2 separate regions of the Homo sapiens genome follow, and region 1 is linked to region 2. The links come from fine-mapping of genetic effects on gene expression. A gene starts in region 2. The other region holds a variant in brackets. All regions are shown on one strand. Distances are from middle to middle.

What was found. PIP is the estimated chance that this variant, and not a neighbour inherited with it, causes the effect.
Region 1: its variant is fine-mapped to the expression of LRRC70 in whole blood (TOPMed, PIP above 0.99). The same link has a PIP of 0.9 or more in T cells and blood mononuclear cells.

What each region holds. Positions count from the first base shown.
Region 1 is chr5:62,601,828-62,610,176 of GRCh38, forward strand. It overlaps IPO11 (importin 11), which reads left to right. Exons shown (of 30, transcript NM_016338.5): 29 at 1-21. IPO11-LRRC70 (IPO11-LRRC70 readthrough) reads left to right here. Exons shown (of 4, transcript NR_073584.1): 3 at 1-21. Among named protein-coding and RNA genes, the nearest start is that of LRRC70, 27 kb to the left of the region's middle. RefSeq lists a silencer at 8,199-8,317. The variant C/T (reference allele first, on the strand shown) is at 3,950.
Region 2 is chr5:62,574,303-62,582,651 of GRCh38, forward strand. LRRC70 (leucine rich repeat containing 70) reads left to right here and starts at 4,517. Exons shown (of 2, transcript NM_181506.5): 1 at 4,517-4,633; 2 at 5,099-7,144. The coding sequence starts at 5,137. The coding sequence ends at 7,005. All of the region lies in intron 27 of IPO11 (importin 11), which reads left to right. IPO11-LRRC70 (IPO11-LRRC70 readthrough) reads left to right here and starts at 4,433. Exons shown (of 4, transcript NR_073584.1): 1 at 4,433-4,633. It also overlaps the pseudogene RPL35AP14.

The DNA.
Region 1 (8,349 bases), 28 kb after region 2:
CAAGATAAGAGGAAAAAGATGGTAAGTTATAAAAGTAGCTTGTAAAAATTAAGAACCATATATTATCATTTTCTGTAGGTTCAGAAATATCTATGGTCTATTTGTCCATCCAGCTATATGTCTATCCATCTATCCCATGTTACAGAATTAATGTAAGGTGTACCCTAAAACAGATACATTTTATTCCTAGTACAGAAAGTTGAGGTTAACTTTTCATCTGAAATAACTGTTGCTTATCTTAGTGCAGAGCAGATGATTTAGTGTTTTACTTATGGAAGGTATGTGTGACCTGCAAACCTTATTTAAGTTGAAATGTTTATTCTTCTGTTTTGAGGAGATGTACTGAAATTTCCTTGCATTCCCTATTATTTTATAGATCTTCACATGAACTTTTGCTGATCTGCATCACAGGCTTTTATAAAAATGCCCTTAAGTTAACCACTAACTTGTTGTAAAAACCACTAATTCTCACCAGAGGAATCTGATAAGGGGAAAAGAACAAAAAAAAAGGAAATATCTAAAATATCTTGCCTTTTAATATTATATATAATCGTGAATGTTTAAATATTTATTTTTACCATAAATAGAAAATAGGTACATAAGAAACTATTTTTTCCCTTTTCTTTTGGAATCTTTTCTTGTCTTCTGGCCTCATCATTTAACTAACTTTATTATACCTTCTTTCCTCATTTGCAAAATGAAAACAATTGTATCTACCTCATAGATAGAATAAATAATTAAAATGGTTATGGATACCTAGTAATTACTCTGTAAGAGTTAGCTGTCATTTTAATCTGATCATTGTATTTACACCTCGCATTACAGCACGTTAGCTCTCAAGGGCCTAATCCTTAGCTTATAGCTAACATTGCACTGCTCTGAGAGCCTTCTTTTAAACTGTTTGAATTTAACTCATTTTACTTTGCTTTTATGCTAGGTATCATCTCCCTAGCACATAGTGTAGAGGAAAGGACAACATCCAAAGATTCTTAAGACCTGAATTCTAGTCCTTTTTTACTATTACTTGTGACCTTGAGCAAGTCACCTTGTCTTTGTAGATCCGTTTGCCTCATCTGTGAAAAGCGGCAGAAATTGGATTAGCATATTTCCAGGGTCTTCGAACTGAAAAATTACTGTTAAAACTCTTAATATCATTACTTTTCTTCCCCCAAAACAATGTTTGTACATATAATAAGTCCTCATTTAACATCATTGATAGTTTCTTGGAAACTGTAACTTGAAGCAGAAAAACATATAATGAACCTAGTTGTACCATGGGCTAATTGATCTAAACAAGAAGCTCCTACAGCATATTTCTGGTCACAAAAACATCACCGAACTTCTTAATAAAGATCCAAAACACTTCTAATATTTAACATTGAAGTAAGTGTGAGCTATATATACGTTTAAGAAAGATTAATGAAAACAAGTTAAATTATTTTCCCTTGTTTTTGGTGAATCAGTGAGTGATGATGGTCGTGATGGTGGGTTAAATCAAGGAATAAATGTTTGCAAAGTGAAAATTGTAAGGAGCACCTCCTACTGCCATGCACTTCAAAAACGAACAAATCTGGCGAGCTCGCTGAAAGCTTTCATAGAGCAGCATTTATATGCATTTGTATGACAATAATTTGTATTCATTCATTCTTTCATTTTTGCAACCCACTTATTCTGCTTTACGGTAGTGGGTGGCTGGAGCCTGTCCTAGCAGCTAAGGGTGCAAGACGGGAACCAGTCCTGGACAGGACACCATTTCCTGACAGGGTGCACTTGCACACACTTACACTCAGATGGGAACAATTTAAACACGCCAGTTCACCTAGTGTGCACAGCTTTGGGATGTGGGAGGAAACTGGAGTACCCAGAGAAAAGTCACGCAGACATGGAGAGAACATGCAAACTCCACACAGACAGTGGACCCAGCCCAAATCCATTTGTTTTCCTTTTCAAAGTTACAATGAAATGATGATAGCAAGGACCTGCTGCGCAGTCATGCACTGCTCAGCAACACAACATTTCGGTCAACAGCACACTGCATATGATAGTGGTCCGATAAGATAATGATACCATATTTTTACTGTACCTTTTATGTGTTTTGATGTGTTTAGATACACAGATACTACTTGGTTACAGTTGCCTACAGTATTCGCTACAGTAACATGCTGTACAGATTTGTTGCCTAGGAGCAATAGGTTATACCATGTAGCCTAGGTGTATTGTAGGCTGTACCATCTAGGTTTGTGTAAGCACACTCCATAATGTTTACACAAGGAACTTGCCTAACAATGCATTTCTCAGAATGTATGCTCATCTTTAAGCAATGCATGACTATATATCTCGAGAAGTATTTTTCCTTTGAAATTAAACTGTTTTGTGGTTGTTTTGTTTTGTTTTGTTTTGCAATGGAGTCTCGCTCTATCACCCAGGCTGGAGTGCAGTGGTATGATCTCGGCTCTCTGCAACCTCCGCCTCCCAGGTTCAAGCAGTAACCATACCTCAGCCTCCCGAGTAGCTGGGACTACAAGTGTGTGCCACCATGTCTGGCTAATTTTTTTGTATTTTTAGTGGGCACGGGGTTTTGCCATGTTGGCCAAGCTGGTCTTGAACTCCTGACCTCAGGTGATCTGCCCACCTTGGCCTCCCAAAGTGCTGGGATTGCAGGTGTGAGCCACCATGCCTGGCCTATGTGGTATCTTAAATACGTGGAAAGTATTTTTTTTTGCACCTACAGTAATAATCTCTAAGTATAGCCTAACATTTGTCTTTCTACTGCTCACACCCCCACTTTATCATTCTAATTATATGTAGTATTGGTTTATAAAACAACCATTATTTTTTTAAGTGGCCGATTTTAAGTTACTTACTACAGTAGATATTTAATATAGATTTATATTATCATCTCTAGTAAGATTTCCAGTACCTTGGTCTTGCTCTTGGATACCCACTGCTCTTAGATATGCTGAGGATACCACAGCAGTTTTTGACTGAAGCTGGGATTGTGTATTGTATAACATTTAATAAATCCAATTATGAATACATGCTAATTTTCCAACAACTTTAAACAAAGAAAATTTGTTTCACTTATCTCTTAGAATTATAAGTTAATGTATTTTTTCAGTAATTACGTCAATCTTGAACTGTATTGTCTATAACGTTAGACATTTTTTGAGAACTATCCAGCAATATCTTGGTTGTTTCTTCAAAGGGGGAGAGTAAACATTTGCTGGCAAATGGTTATGAATTATTCTTTACAAAAAAATTAGCAAAGGCTTTTCTCATTTTAAAATGAAATTATTTGCTAGGAAGAAAAATATAGCTGCTTAGTTCCAAGGTCACATAAATGAAAATTTGATTCGCTTACTGTCATTGTTGTCTTAAAGTAGTCCATAAAATGTGGTGTCTGTGTTTCAGCAGCTGCTTTGGTAGAGAATAGCAGTAGTGATTGTAGTTCAGAAAGGCAGATGATTAATATTATATCAAATGTGCCAAATAATTTTCCATACGTTTCTGAGAATTCTCTATATTTTATTTCAAATAAGGATGAAATTTACACTCAGGAAAGCTATTAAGCTGTCCAGCCTTTTGATCTCCCTTTTCATTCAGCCTCTCTCTCTACCTTTCATTTCGGTGAAATAATACTTAGAATAGCACATGCAGCTCAAGCATTTCATTTAATATATGTTTCCTTTCTGTCCAGTATATTCTAATTAGTAGAATAATAATTTTATGACCTTTACTATAAAGACTTCAGCTAATTTATTAACATCTTTAGTTTTTTGTAATTTTTTGAAATCTGACTCATAGTCACTTGTAAGTTGTAATTTCCAAATTCTAGTTTTGAGCATTTTAATGCTTTCTCACAACTCTATGATACCAGCTAACAAAGTATTATTATTATTATTATTATTATTATTTTATTTACTTTTTTGGGATAGTCTTGCTCTGTTGT[C/T]CAGGTTGGAGTGCAATGGGTGCAAACATGGTTTACTCAGCCTCAACTTCCTGGGCTCAAAGAACCTTCCTGTCTCAGCTTCCTGTGTAGCTGAGACCGCATGTGCATGCCACTACGCTAATTTTTACATGTTTTGTAGAGACAGGGTCCCACTTTGTTGCTTAGGCTGGTCTCGAACTCTTAGGCTCAAGAGATCCTCCCTTGTCAGCCTTCCAAAGTGCCGGCATTACAGGTGTGAGCCACTCCACCCTCCCTATTTTTTCATATTATTACTTGGTTTTTTTTAAATGGGCAAATGAAAACTGTATGTATCTGTGGTGTACAACATGGTGTTTTAAAATATGTGTATATTGCAGAATGGCTGAATCAAGCTAATGAGCAAATCTGTTACCAGTTGAGCTCATTCAGAAAGAGAAAAGTTGGGCCAGGCGTGGTGGCTTATGCCTGTAATCCCAGTACTTTGGGAGGCCGAGGTGGGCAAATCGCTTGAGCCTAGGAGTTCAAGACCAGCCTGGGCAACATAGGTGAATCCTGCCTCTAAAAAAAAAAAAAATTTAGCTGGGCATGATGGCGTGCATCTGTAGTCCCAGCTACTTGGGAGGCTGAGGTGGGAGGATTGCTTGAACATGGGAGACGGAGGTTGCAGTGAGCCAAAATCATGCCACTGGTACTCCAGCCTAGACAACAGAACGAGACCCTGTCTTAAAAAAAAAAAAAAAAAAAAAAAAAAGGAGAACCCTTATGTCTCATTACAAACCACTGAAGTTAAAATGTGTGCGGCCGGGTACGGTGGCTCACGCCTGTAATCCCAGCACTTCGGGAGGCCGAGATAGGCAGATCACGAAGTCAGGAGATCGAGACCACCCTGGCTAACACAGTGAAACCCCATCTCTACTAAAAATACAAAAAAATTAGCCGGGCGTGGTGGCATGCGCCTGTAGTCCCATCTGCTGCATTATCATTTGAATGTGTTTTAAATTGAAACATATATATGGCAAACATAATCTGCAGCTTTACTTAGCTTTTTAATGCAATCAAGTATGTGTAGACTGCAGCTCTGGCAAGCTTGGCATCATAGTCTTTTGCCTAGGCTCCAGCATATGTAAGTAAACTATACGTTAGGTTGAGTTGCATTTTATTTGATGAATTTATAAGTACATCCTAAGTTTCATGCCAAATATAACAAATCCTGAGCATGGCTTTTGTACTGTCTTAGAGTGATTATTGTTTCTGTACTGCTCTTGCCAAATACTGTACTGGCTCAAGGATGGAGAACAGTGCTGCACTGTGAGGATGGAATTGTCCTGCAATCAGAGCCTACACATAGCTAACATTTTTCTCTTAGAGCACAGAGATATCTCCCTCATTTTCCCCTCCCTGCTTTCCCCTCCTTTACTCATCAACTCTGAAAACTTTCATTTTGTCTAACTTTTGGATCTAGAAGCTTTCTTTAGACTTGTACTTGTTAGAATTTAGAATACATCATCAAAAGGAAAGTGACACTGTTATGAGTTGAAACTATTTCATAAGGTTTTCTGGAAATCTTTATTCCAAATATAATGTCAACAGGGCACCCTGTGGTAGTGGCTTGGGGTGGGAGTTTTTAAACTCTCTCTGGATGATTTTGACCACTGAGAACCAGTAGATTGATTCTTTTGCCTGCTCCCATTTGCTTCTAGAAAACCTCAGCAGAACTACTATAAAGATAGAATTGTATTGGTACTGATAAGGTACTGTGTTGTTCTTAATTAAATATCAGTAATTTTTAATGTATGCATAAAATACATTTTCCTTTTGCAAATAATATGAGAATAATTCATCATCATATTGGTGGCTTCAGAACTGCCCTTTGAGAATCCTTACCTTATAGCATTCAGTAATCAAGATAAATTATAGCATTGTTGAAAATACTTTTTAGTATTCAGCTTACATGCAGTCCACCCAGGTTATGAGTTGAGAGACCTTTTTTCTTTTCTCAACTTGCGCAGTTAACATTTATCACTTCTAGTATCATGCCACATCTCTTTTTTTTTTTTTTGGAGAGTCTTACTCTGTCACCCAGGCTGGAGTGCAGTGGTGCTATCTCAGCTCACTGCAACCTGCTATCTCAGCTCACTGCAACCTCTGCCTCCCGGGTTCAAGCGATTCTCCTGCTTCAGCCTCCCAAGTAGCTGGGATTACAGGTGTGCACCACCACTGCTGGATAATTTTTGTATTTTTAGGTTAGAGACGGGGTTTCACCATGTTGGCCAGGCTGTTCCTGAACTCCTGACCTCAAGTGATCCACCCGCCTTGGCCTCCCAAAGTGCTGGGATTACAGGCATGAGCCACCACTCCTGGCCTCTCATGCCACATCTTGACCCCAAACCTTGAACTCCAACATTTCTCTCTCATCACAGTCTCTTCTTCCTTACTAATCATTCCTTTTCTTTTGGTAGATCTATTTTGAACTTTATCTGGAGCCCTACAATTTTTCCTTACTTTGTCCTCTTAAATCCTAGAGTACCATATTCTTTGCTGTTTTTACCTTTGGACAAGCTATAGCCCTCACCCTCTCTATTTCAGACTTACTGTATCTGGGGGCCTGGGAATCAGGCATACATATTTTCTAAAAGCTTCACATGTTCTTTTGGTATATAACCAGGGTTGAAAACCACTAGAATAAGAATTAAACCCCTTGACACTCTTTTAAGAAAGACCTCTGCAGTCTGCCTCCTTTTAAACTTTGTCCTGTATTCTCATTCTATCTCCTTCACTGGCTAAACCAAATGACTTGTCTCCACACGTTATATGGTTTCTGCCTCTATTACATGCTAGTCCTCCATCTGGAATAGCCCTTTTGTCCCTTTTCTCCCCACTGAGTTTTCTCATTTGCCATTTTAATTCCCATATATGCCGTGTCCCCCACATAGATGCAACCTCCCCCACTGTCCACATCCTGTACCACAGTGTTAAATTTGTTACAGCTGATGACCCTACATTGACACATCATCACTGACAATTGATAGTTTATGTTAGGGTTCACTCTGGTATTGTACATTCTATGGGTCTTAATAAATGTATAACGATGTGTATCCAACATTGTAGTATCATACGTAAGAGTTTCACTGCCTTCAAAATCCTGTGCTCTGCCTAGTCATCCCTCCCTCCCCTGAGCCCCTGGTGTTTTTACTGTCTCCATCGTTTTGTCTTTTCTGGAATGTTATGCAGTAGGACTCATACACTGTGTAGCCTCATATGATTTTTATTCAGAAAGTCAGCAGAGTGTGATGTTGCAGCTAATGTGTGTTGTCACTTGTCTGCTGGCTCACCATGTTGGTGTGGGGAAGCAGCTGGAACTGCACCAACTCCACGTCCTGCCAGATCCTCTCTAGCTTCTCTTACTTTAGAGCCAGGCACATGCCTAGTTTAATAATGAAGGCATTGGCTTCTCTTAGAAGATACCCCATCAGCAAAGTTGAAGACTTGGAAGTGATGAGAGGCTAAAGGGTGTTCCCATCTGTTCTTGTAGGTTCTACTCATTCTTGCAGTTTCACTTTGCCCTGTCCCTTGGGCCATATGACTTCAGGCTATAGCATCACCAGCACAAAAAGAAACAGCCTTCCATGGACTAGACGTTTAACTGGTTCTCACAGTCATGGAAGATCAAATCCCTATAATAAGGCCAAATATATGATTGATACAAGCTCCCTAGTGCCTAACAGCATGTATGATGTATATCAGGTGTTCAGCAAATGTTTGTTGAATGGATAAGTGACTGGATGGACCAATGAATGAATGAGAGACACAGTCCCTGCCCTCAAGGAGCTCCTAGACCAGTGTAGAGACAGAACTGAGATGTAGGGCTGACAACACAATTGTGTCATTTTGACATCTCTAGTGGAGCAGTCTGGAGAAGAGCTGGGCCTGCCCCTAGGCCTCCCAGTCACCAATGTCTTCCTGGTTTGAGTTTATGCTGGGTGAGGTGATGGGCACTTCATTAGACTGCCATGTTAGTTGGTGTCCCCAGGGGTCTGGGAGCACATAATTCAGTGTCCTAATGTCCAGCAGGTGACTGCAAGGGTTGCTTCTGAAAATGAGGTTCTAACTGTTGTGTGTCCAGGTGCTACAGCAAATATGAGGTCAACTCGTAGTCACATGTGTAGGTCTGCTTCTGGCGCCTGCTCCTGGGACCACATTGGATGTGGCTGTTGGCGATACTGTAATTGTAGCAGTCCCATTTAGGGAAGCACTGCCTAGCTCTCAGGAGGGAATAACAGCAGTCATGGGTGAGGCAACAACCAGTTGTTGGCATCCACCGGCTGCCTCTGGCCCACCAAACCACAGTGGCAGCCATAGATGAGGTACTTGTAATATTACTGGATATATTTTATCATACTGTTTGAGTGAATAAAAGCATA
Region 2 (8,349 bases):
CTTCTGGTGCATGTGCGTGTGTTTGTGTGTTTAAAACTTTAGGGATTTTAGGGACTATGGTAAACTGGAAATTGTAATATAAGCATAAAATAAGAACCATCAAAATGGAAGGGATTTGCACGAAAGAGAAATTCTAATATAGCTCAGATCTGAACTATAATCTGCTGAGTGAGATTAGTCTATCTCAGCAAAACCCAGAAGGTGGTGGATAGGGTCAGAAGAGAGATTAGTGTTCCAAAGGTTTCATGTGGAGCCAGGGGAAAGAGGAGATATTTTGAATTCTAATCCATCTCTGCTAGCTTTTTCTAAGTTGAAACAGCCCTTCTGTTTAATAGTTCTGCTTTCTGTGCTTTGCAGTGTAAAACTATGCCAATATACATCAAAGAAATTTATCATCATATACTCGCAATGAGGATGGTACCTAAAATTGTCCATGGAAATAAAATATGCTTCTCAGAATGACTGTGTAACAGGAACAGAGATCAAGAAGTTAAAAATGTTCTTCTAAAGTCATGCTGGGGGGTGATTAATAATGTTCCTTGAAAGTGTCCTAGTGTCAGTACATCCTTAGAAAGTATCAGTTTGCTTTTAAAGCCGCATAGTCACAGGCATAGTTGAAATTTTATGCTTCTCATGCATAAAGTGCATAAAGTTTATTTTTTATTCTCATAAATAGATTTGCAGCTAAAAATTTCTTAGTTGATTTTCTTGTTGACAATTGAGCAAATAGAGATATTCATAGTTTTGCCATGTTATGGCAGCACAATATTTGTTTCTGTTTTTATTTTAAAGCATACATTAAAAACTTAGAAATGGTGACATATCTTGGCAGTAATGCTCATGGACAAATTTTACACGGATATCATAGCTACTGTCATGATATTTTCACTTAGAAATTATTTCAGACTTAGAAAAACACTGCAAGAACAATAAAGAACACTCATATGACCTTTACCCAGAATCACCTGTTGTTAACTTTTGTCCCAGTTTGTTGCGTGATACACATTTTCTGTCAGATAACTAGATAGATGTTTTATATTCTGAACCATTTCTGTGTAAGTTGTATTTGCCATGGTCTCTTACTCCTCAGTACTTACAGTCTAGGACCAATTATTGTTTTAGTTCTTGTGTTTTTGTAGTCTCTTTTACTCTGTCATGTCATTTCCTCAGTCTTTTCTTTTTCTCTTATAACATTTTTAAATAATCCACTCCTTATAATCTCTCTCCATCTTTCCAATTGCCTCTCTGTTTTTGTCTCCCATCCATCCTCTCCCCACCTCCCCCAGCAGAATAGAGTGTTCCTCATTTGTGGTTTGATATTTCCTTATGGTTAGATTTATGTATGCATCTCTCGTTAGAATATTGCATAAGTGATGTGTCCCTCTTGGAATATCACAGGCAAAGTCACATGGTGCTCATCTGTTTCTCACTGATGATGTTAATGCTGGTCAAGGTGTTATCTGATTTCCCCACTGTGTATAGTTACTATGTTGTTATTTTTTTTTCTTGCAACTGATAAGAGGTCTATATTGAGATATACTGCCCCTCATTAAAATTTATCTCCTACATTGAGCAAAAGAATTCTCAAATTGTTTGCTAAATTTTTTTTTCCAGGAACACAAGTCCACTTTATTTACCTTTCATTAGTTTAAATCTTTAAGGGGTTACAGCATCTATGTCCAATGGCCTTAGCAGAAGGATCGCTTTGGAATTTGGCAAAAACCATGCCAATGTTTCCTTGGGCCCAAGTTACCTTTCTCTAGAATACTCTGATTTTGTTTGGTTTGCTGCCAGGAGTCACTTGTTGTTCTTTGCTTTGTGTGCGTAAGCACATTTATTGCCCAAATAGAATTCAGTTTCATCTTGGGCATAAACACCTTCAGTTTTAAGAAGATTTGTGTGCTCCCTTTGGTTCCAGAGACCCTGCTTATAGCGCAAAAATGGCCTTGGATGACAGCCTTCCAGAAATACTTGCCTTTTAGAAGTCATGTTCCAAGCAGGCCTCGACAGGCTTCATGATGGCAGGAAGAGCTGGATTATTTTTAATTGCAAATCCCATTTCACATTTTCATTCTCTTGATTTTAGTTCCATCAGTGACTTTTAAGGTCCATAAAATCAGTAACTGCTGTTATTATAAGCCATTCTTTATATGTAAACCAATCTTGATTGGTTTATATATAGATGGTATATATCTAAATACATATAGGCTGGACGCAGTGGCTCACACCTGTAATCCCAGCACTTTGGGAGGCCAAGGTGGGAGGATTACTTGAACCTACTAGTTCAAGACCAGCCTGAGCAGAATGGCAAGACTCCGTCTTTACAAAAATAAGAAAAAGCATGGTGGCATGCACCTGCAGTCCTAGCTACTCAAGAGGCTGAGGGAAGAGGATCACTTGAGACTGGGAGGTCGATGCTGTGGTGAGCTGTACTCACATTGTTGCACTCCAACCCAGCCGACAGAGCAAGACTGTGTCTCAAAAGAATACATGCATCCATACAGATGATGTATATTTAAAAGAGCTAATGGAACAATTGCTCTGTTATTTATACATTCTTGTTTTTGTATGGGGAGAATCTGAATGGAAAAGAGAATAGTTGTGTATTAATACCAGAAGCATGAGATGATTTGAAGACAAAGGCAGTGTAAAAGAAGGTTCAGCAACAAGAATGAGAGGAAAACAGCTCAATGAGTCAATTTCCTGGAAAGAAATAGAAGACTAATTTAAGAGGTTGAGCGTAGTGTTCAGTAATAGTTGTAATGAACATTAGTAATCAGAAAAGGATAATGAGGAATCATTGTTGATCAGTTGTCTCTAAGAACAGCAACTCCTAAATGAACAGAAAGACTAAACTTTGTTTTGCTGGAGATAGGAATTTTTTTTTAAACCATTCAACCTGAGAGTTACAGTGTACTATTTATATTTGCTTGTTTTGTTGAAGTCAGTTTAGTTTCCTTCAGTTTTTAGAATGTGAGAAGTGAGATTTTATTTTGTCATTTTTCCTTAATACAGTTTCCTAAAAATTTTACCTTTGCATCCTAATAAGTGTTCTTTACTGCTTTGGATATTTTTGGCATAAAGAACAAAATTAATTCATACTCTGGTTATATTACTTTGTGGGTTTTTTCTCTTTAATTTTATTTTTATTTCAAAGGACCCTTTCTCTGAATTTTTCCCAAGAAATTGAAAAATCCATGGGACAAGCTTCATATCACCTTGTATATTATTGGAAGTACTAAACAAAATGGACCTGAGAAACATAGCCCCTACCTCAAATTCATATCATTTCTGTCACTTGTTTTGTTTTCCATTTTTAATGCATAAAATAGCAATAACAGTAACCAGCCATAATGGATAGGTGTAAGAATCATAAGTCATTTTGATAACGATCTGCTATCCAGTATGCATTGCTGAATTTTTAGTCATAGAAAGATAATGCTAGGTATTATTTCAGCTTTCTAATATGGACATAATTCATATTATTTCTAAAGTAATTGTTGATGTGAAATGAAACTGCTTTAATATCAAAGGAGAGTTGTATACAATTATATAACTTGATATTTTAGGAATATTATCAGGCTATTAGTAATATTAATAAAAGTCAGAATTAGAAAGCTTAAGCAACTAGCTTAAAGTTAATGAAAGAAAGTTAATGACTGAACAATATATAATATAAACAATTTATATCCGATTCTTTAAATTCTTGAAAAATGACGTTAAAAAATTCTCCATTTTTGTTCTAAAAGATTCAAACTGATACAGATATATATAGGGCGAAACATCGCCTCTTTTACTCTCCCCAATTTTTCTTGCAAAGATAACCTATGTCAGTAAGTTGGTATGCAGCTTCTTAACATCTTATAACCCAACACAACCAATTAGTGCGTTACTACTAATTAGTAGCTTACTACCAATTAGTACCTCACGTATTAAGTAGTACTCAGTATTTTTTGCAACCAAAAATATTTTGAAAATTTTAAAAAGAGCACTGGAGGATAATATAACAACATTTATGTTCATTCTAAATTTTTTCCCCTATTTTTATTAAAGGAATAAAGCATAAAGTTTAAGTCTTCAATGCGTATTTAACACAACATAAATATTTTATTCATTAAAAAGTTTACAAAAAATTGTATTACTCGATATACATCTTATTTGAACTAGCCTTTTCCATTCAGTAGCTATGTTGTTTGATAGCTAGAGTCTGTTGATTGATATTTGGGTTCTGAATAACTAATGTTTTCAAGTATCCTTTAAAAACTATTATTTTTATATTATAGGAGATATTTCAATGTGTATATTAGGAAAACTCTAACTGCATTCTGAAAAAATAAGTTCCTGAGATTTCCGTTCAGCAATACTTTTGAAACACAGATAAAATTACTTCCTGTCTCTTAGCTTCCTGTATCCATGGCAACCTCTGTTTTACACATTGACTGTAAAGGAACCAATGTGAAGAGTGGTGTTTCCTGAGCAAACGGTGACTTAAAAAAAAAAAAAAAAAAGTGGTGGGGTGGAGGTCAGCAGTGCCACAGAACAAACTGGAGTTAAGAAATGTCGTTCTTCAGATTTAAAAAGAAAACCTTTACTGAATCAGCTGAGTGTTAATAATACGAATTTCCTTTTCTTGGTAAGATTATTTACTTAAATATGAACTTCTAGCTGACATGAAAAATAGTTCTGTGAAAAACTGTAATTTAGAATTTAATTGTTCTGTAGTGAATTTGTATTTTCATAAATTATAATGTTATTTGATATTAGACTTTATGTTGTTAAAGGGACATATTAAATTCAAAGATTCTCATTCCTACATCATTTGTCACCTGTGTTGTAATCAATTGTAATTTTTAAGTTAACTTAGCAAATGTTTCATTAATCTGAACTATTTTGTCAAATAGTGGGTTAATGGCCTGATCATGTTAATAATTCTAGAACGTATTCCATACTCATTATTTTTTGCTATTACCATGGTATGATTTATGATAGTATTATTGGCTGATCCTAATTAAAATAGAATACAGAAGTTATAGTATTATAAAAAAAATTCATTTGATGAAGTTTTCGTGATTTAAAGCTTTACCTTCTCTTTTTATAGCCAATTCTGATCTGAACAGAAAATCCAAGAACAGGGATATGTGTGGATTACAGTTTTCTCTGCCTTGCCTACGACTGTTTCTGGTTGTTACCTGTTATCTTTTATTATTACTCCACAAAGAAATACTTGGATGTTCGTCTGTTTGTCAGCTCTGCACTGGGAGACAAATTAACTGCCGTAACTTAGGCCTTTCGAGTATTCCTAAGAATTTTCCTGAAAGTACAGTTTTTCTGTATCTGACTGGGAATAATATATCTTATATAAATGAAAGTGAATTAACAGGACTTCATTCTCTTGTAGCATTGTATTTGGATAATTCTAACATTCTGTATGTATATCCAAAAGCCTTTGTTCAATTGAGGCATCTATATTTTCTATTTCTAAATAATAATTTCATCAAACGCTTAGATCCTGGAATATTTAAGGGACTTTTAAATCTTCGTAATTTATATTTACAGTATAATCAGGTATCTTTTGTTCCGAGAGGAGTATTTAATGATCTAGTTTCAGTTCAGTACTTAAATCTACAAAGGAATCGCCTCACTGTCCTTGGGAGTGGTACCTTTGTTGGTATGGTTGCTCTTCGGATACTTGATTTATCAAACAATAACATTTTGAGGATATCAGAATCAGGCTTTCAACATCTTGAAAACCTTGCTTGTTTGTATTTAGGAAGTAATAATTTAACAAAAGTACCATCAAATGCCTTTGAAGTACTTAAAAGTCTTAGAAGACTTTCTTTGTCTCATAATCCTATTGAAGCAATACAGCCCTTTGCATTTAAAGGACTTGCCAATCTGGAATACCTCCTCCTGAAAAATTCAAGAATTAGGAATGTTACTAGGGATGGGTTTAGTGGAATTAATAATCTTAAACATTTGATCTTAAGTCATAATGATTTAGAGAATTTAAATTCTGACACATTCAGTTTGTTAAAGAATTTAATTTACCTTAAGTTAGATAGAAACAGAATAATTAGCATTGATAATGATACATTTGAAAATATGGGAGCATCTTTGAAGATCCTTAATCTGTCATTTAATAATCTTACAGCCTTGCATCCAAGGGTCCTTAAGCCGTTGTCTTCATTGATTCATCTTCAGGCAAATTCTAATCCTTGGGAATGTAACTGCAAACTTTTGGGCCTTCGAGACTGGCTAGCATCTTCAGCCATTACTCTAAACATCTATTGTCAGAATCCCCCATCCATGCGTGGCAGAGCATTACGTTATATTAACATTACAAATTGTGTTACATCTTCAATAAATGTATCCAGAGCTTGGGCTGTTGTAAAATCTCCTCATATTCATCACAAGACTACTGCGCTAATGATGGCCTGGCATAAAGTAACCACAAATGGCAGTCCTCTGGAAAATACTGAGACTGAGAACATTACTTTCTGGGAACGAATTCCTACTTCACCTGCTGGTAGATTTTTTCAAGAGAATGCCTTTGGTAATCCATTAGAGACTACAGCAGTGTTACCTGTGCAAATACAACTTACTACTTCTGTTACCTTGAACTTGGAAAAAAACAGTGCTCTACCGAATGATGCTGCTTCAATGTCAGGGAAAACATCTCTAATTTGTACACAAGAAGTTGAGAAGTTGAATGAGGCTTTTGACATTTTGCTAGCTTTTTTCATCTTAGCTTGTGTTTTAATCATTTTTTTGATCTACAAAGTTGTTCAGTTTAAACAAAAACTAAAGGCATCAGAAAACTCAAGGGAAAATAGACTTGAATACTACAGCTTTTATCAGTCAGCAAGGTATAATGTAACTGCCTCAATTTGTAACACTTCCCCAAATTCTCTAGAAAGTCCTGGCTTGGAGCAGATTCGACTTCATAAACAAATTGTTCCTGAAAATGAGGCACAGGTCATTCTTTTTGAACATTCTGCTTTATAACTCAACTAAATATTGTCTATAAGAAACTTCAGTGCCATGGACATGATTTAAACTGAAACCTCCTTATATAATTATATACTTTAGTTGGAAATATAATGAATTATATGAGGTTAGCATTATTAAAATATGTTTTTAATAATTTGTGAACAGTGTATTCATTTAGCAAATATTTTCTTTGATATATACTGTATTAAGTAATAATAGCTAACATTTCTGTGTATCAAGCACTGTGCCAAATATTTCACATTTCACATTTAATCTGTGAATAGTCTTGAAAGGTGGCACTATTTATACTTTACAGGTGAGGAAACTTAAAGTTTAAGTAACTATGCCAAATTCTCACAGCTTGTAACACTTTTTGGGCCTCTCTGACTAGAGTTCATGCTTTCAGTTTTATACTATATTGCTGCTTTGGTTCTAGGATTGTGATATGAAAAAAATAGACGTGGTTCTTATTCTAGGTAGAGCTTGAAATTTAGAGGAGGAGATATATGGTTACTGCACAGTGCGATGATAAGTACTGTACTTGGAGATGCTGTTGAGTATAACATTTGTGGAGGTGAGAGATGGCTTTATGAAGAAAGTGACATCAAAACTGGATCACGAAGAATAAATAGAAATTAGCCCAGTGAAGAGAGCTGAGTAACATCGTGTCAGAGGGGTTAACAGAAGAAAACCTGCTGCTTTTCAGGAACTAAAATTCAGTACAGCTGGTGTCGTGAATGATGGTGTGCGATTTAAAGCCCGAAAGAGAGATCAGGTGATGAAAGCTTTATAGTTACATGCTTTATCTTGAGGGCAACAGAGAGCCATTGAAGGATTTTTAAGCAGTAGAGTGAAATGATTAGATTTACCCTTTAGAAATTTCCCTCTTTCTGGAAGGAACAATAAAACCGGAGCCAGAATTAGGTGAGTAGGAATCTGAATTGCTAATCCAGGGGAAAGATGCTAGAGGCCTGGGCCAGGATACTGGCAAAAAGGATGGATGGATCCAGAGGTACTTTGAAAGTAAAATGAACTGCCTTGGTGATTGGTTGAGGCGTGGCAGGGGAGGGAGAAGTCAAAGATGTTAGGTTTTTGGCTTAGGCAGTTTTGTGCTGTATTCACTAAGCTAGGGAAAGAAAAGGGGTGGGGCAAAATAATGAGTCAGTTTTAGACAGATTGAATCTGAGGTTCTTATTAGATCTCCACATGGAAATATATATCATGCAGAAATTCAGAAGCGAGGTCTTATGGTAAAGGCCAATATTTCTTAAACTTTCATCTGTCCAGTACACTGGAAATGTATGATGCACCCTTTACAGTAACAATAACCATTTAAGCTGTGGTTTTGGGAGATAGGTA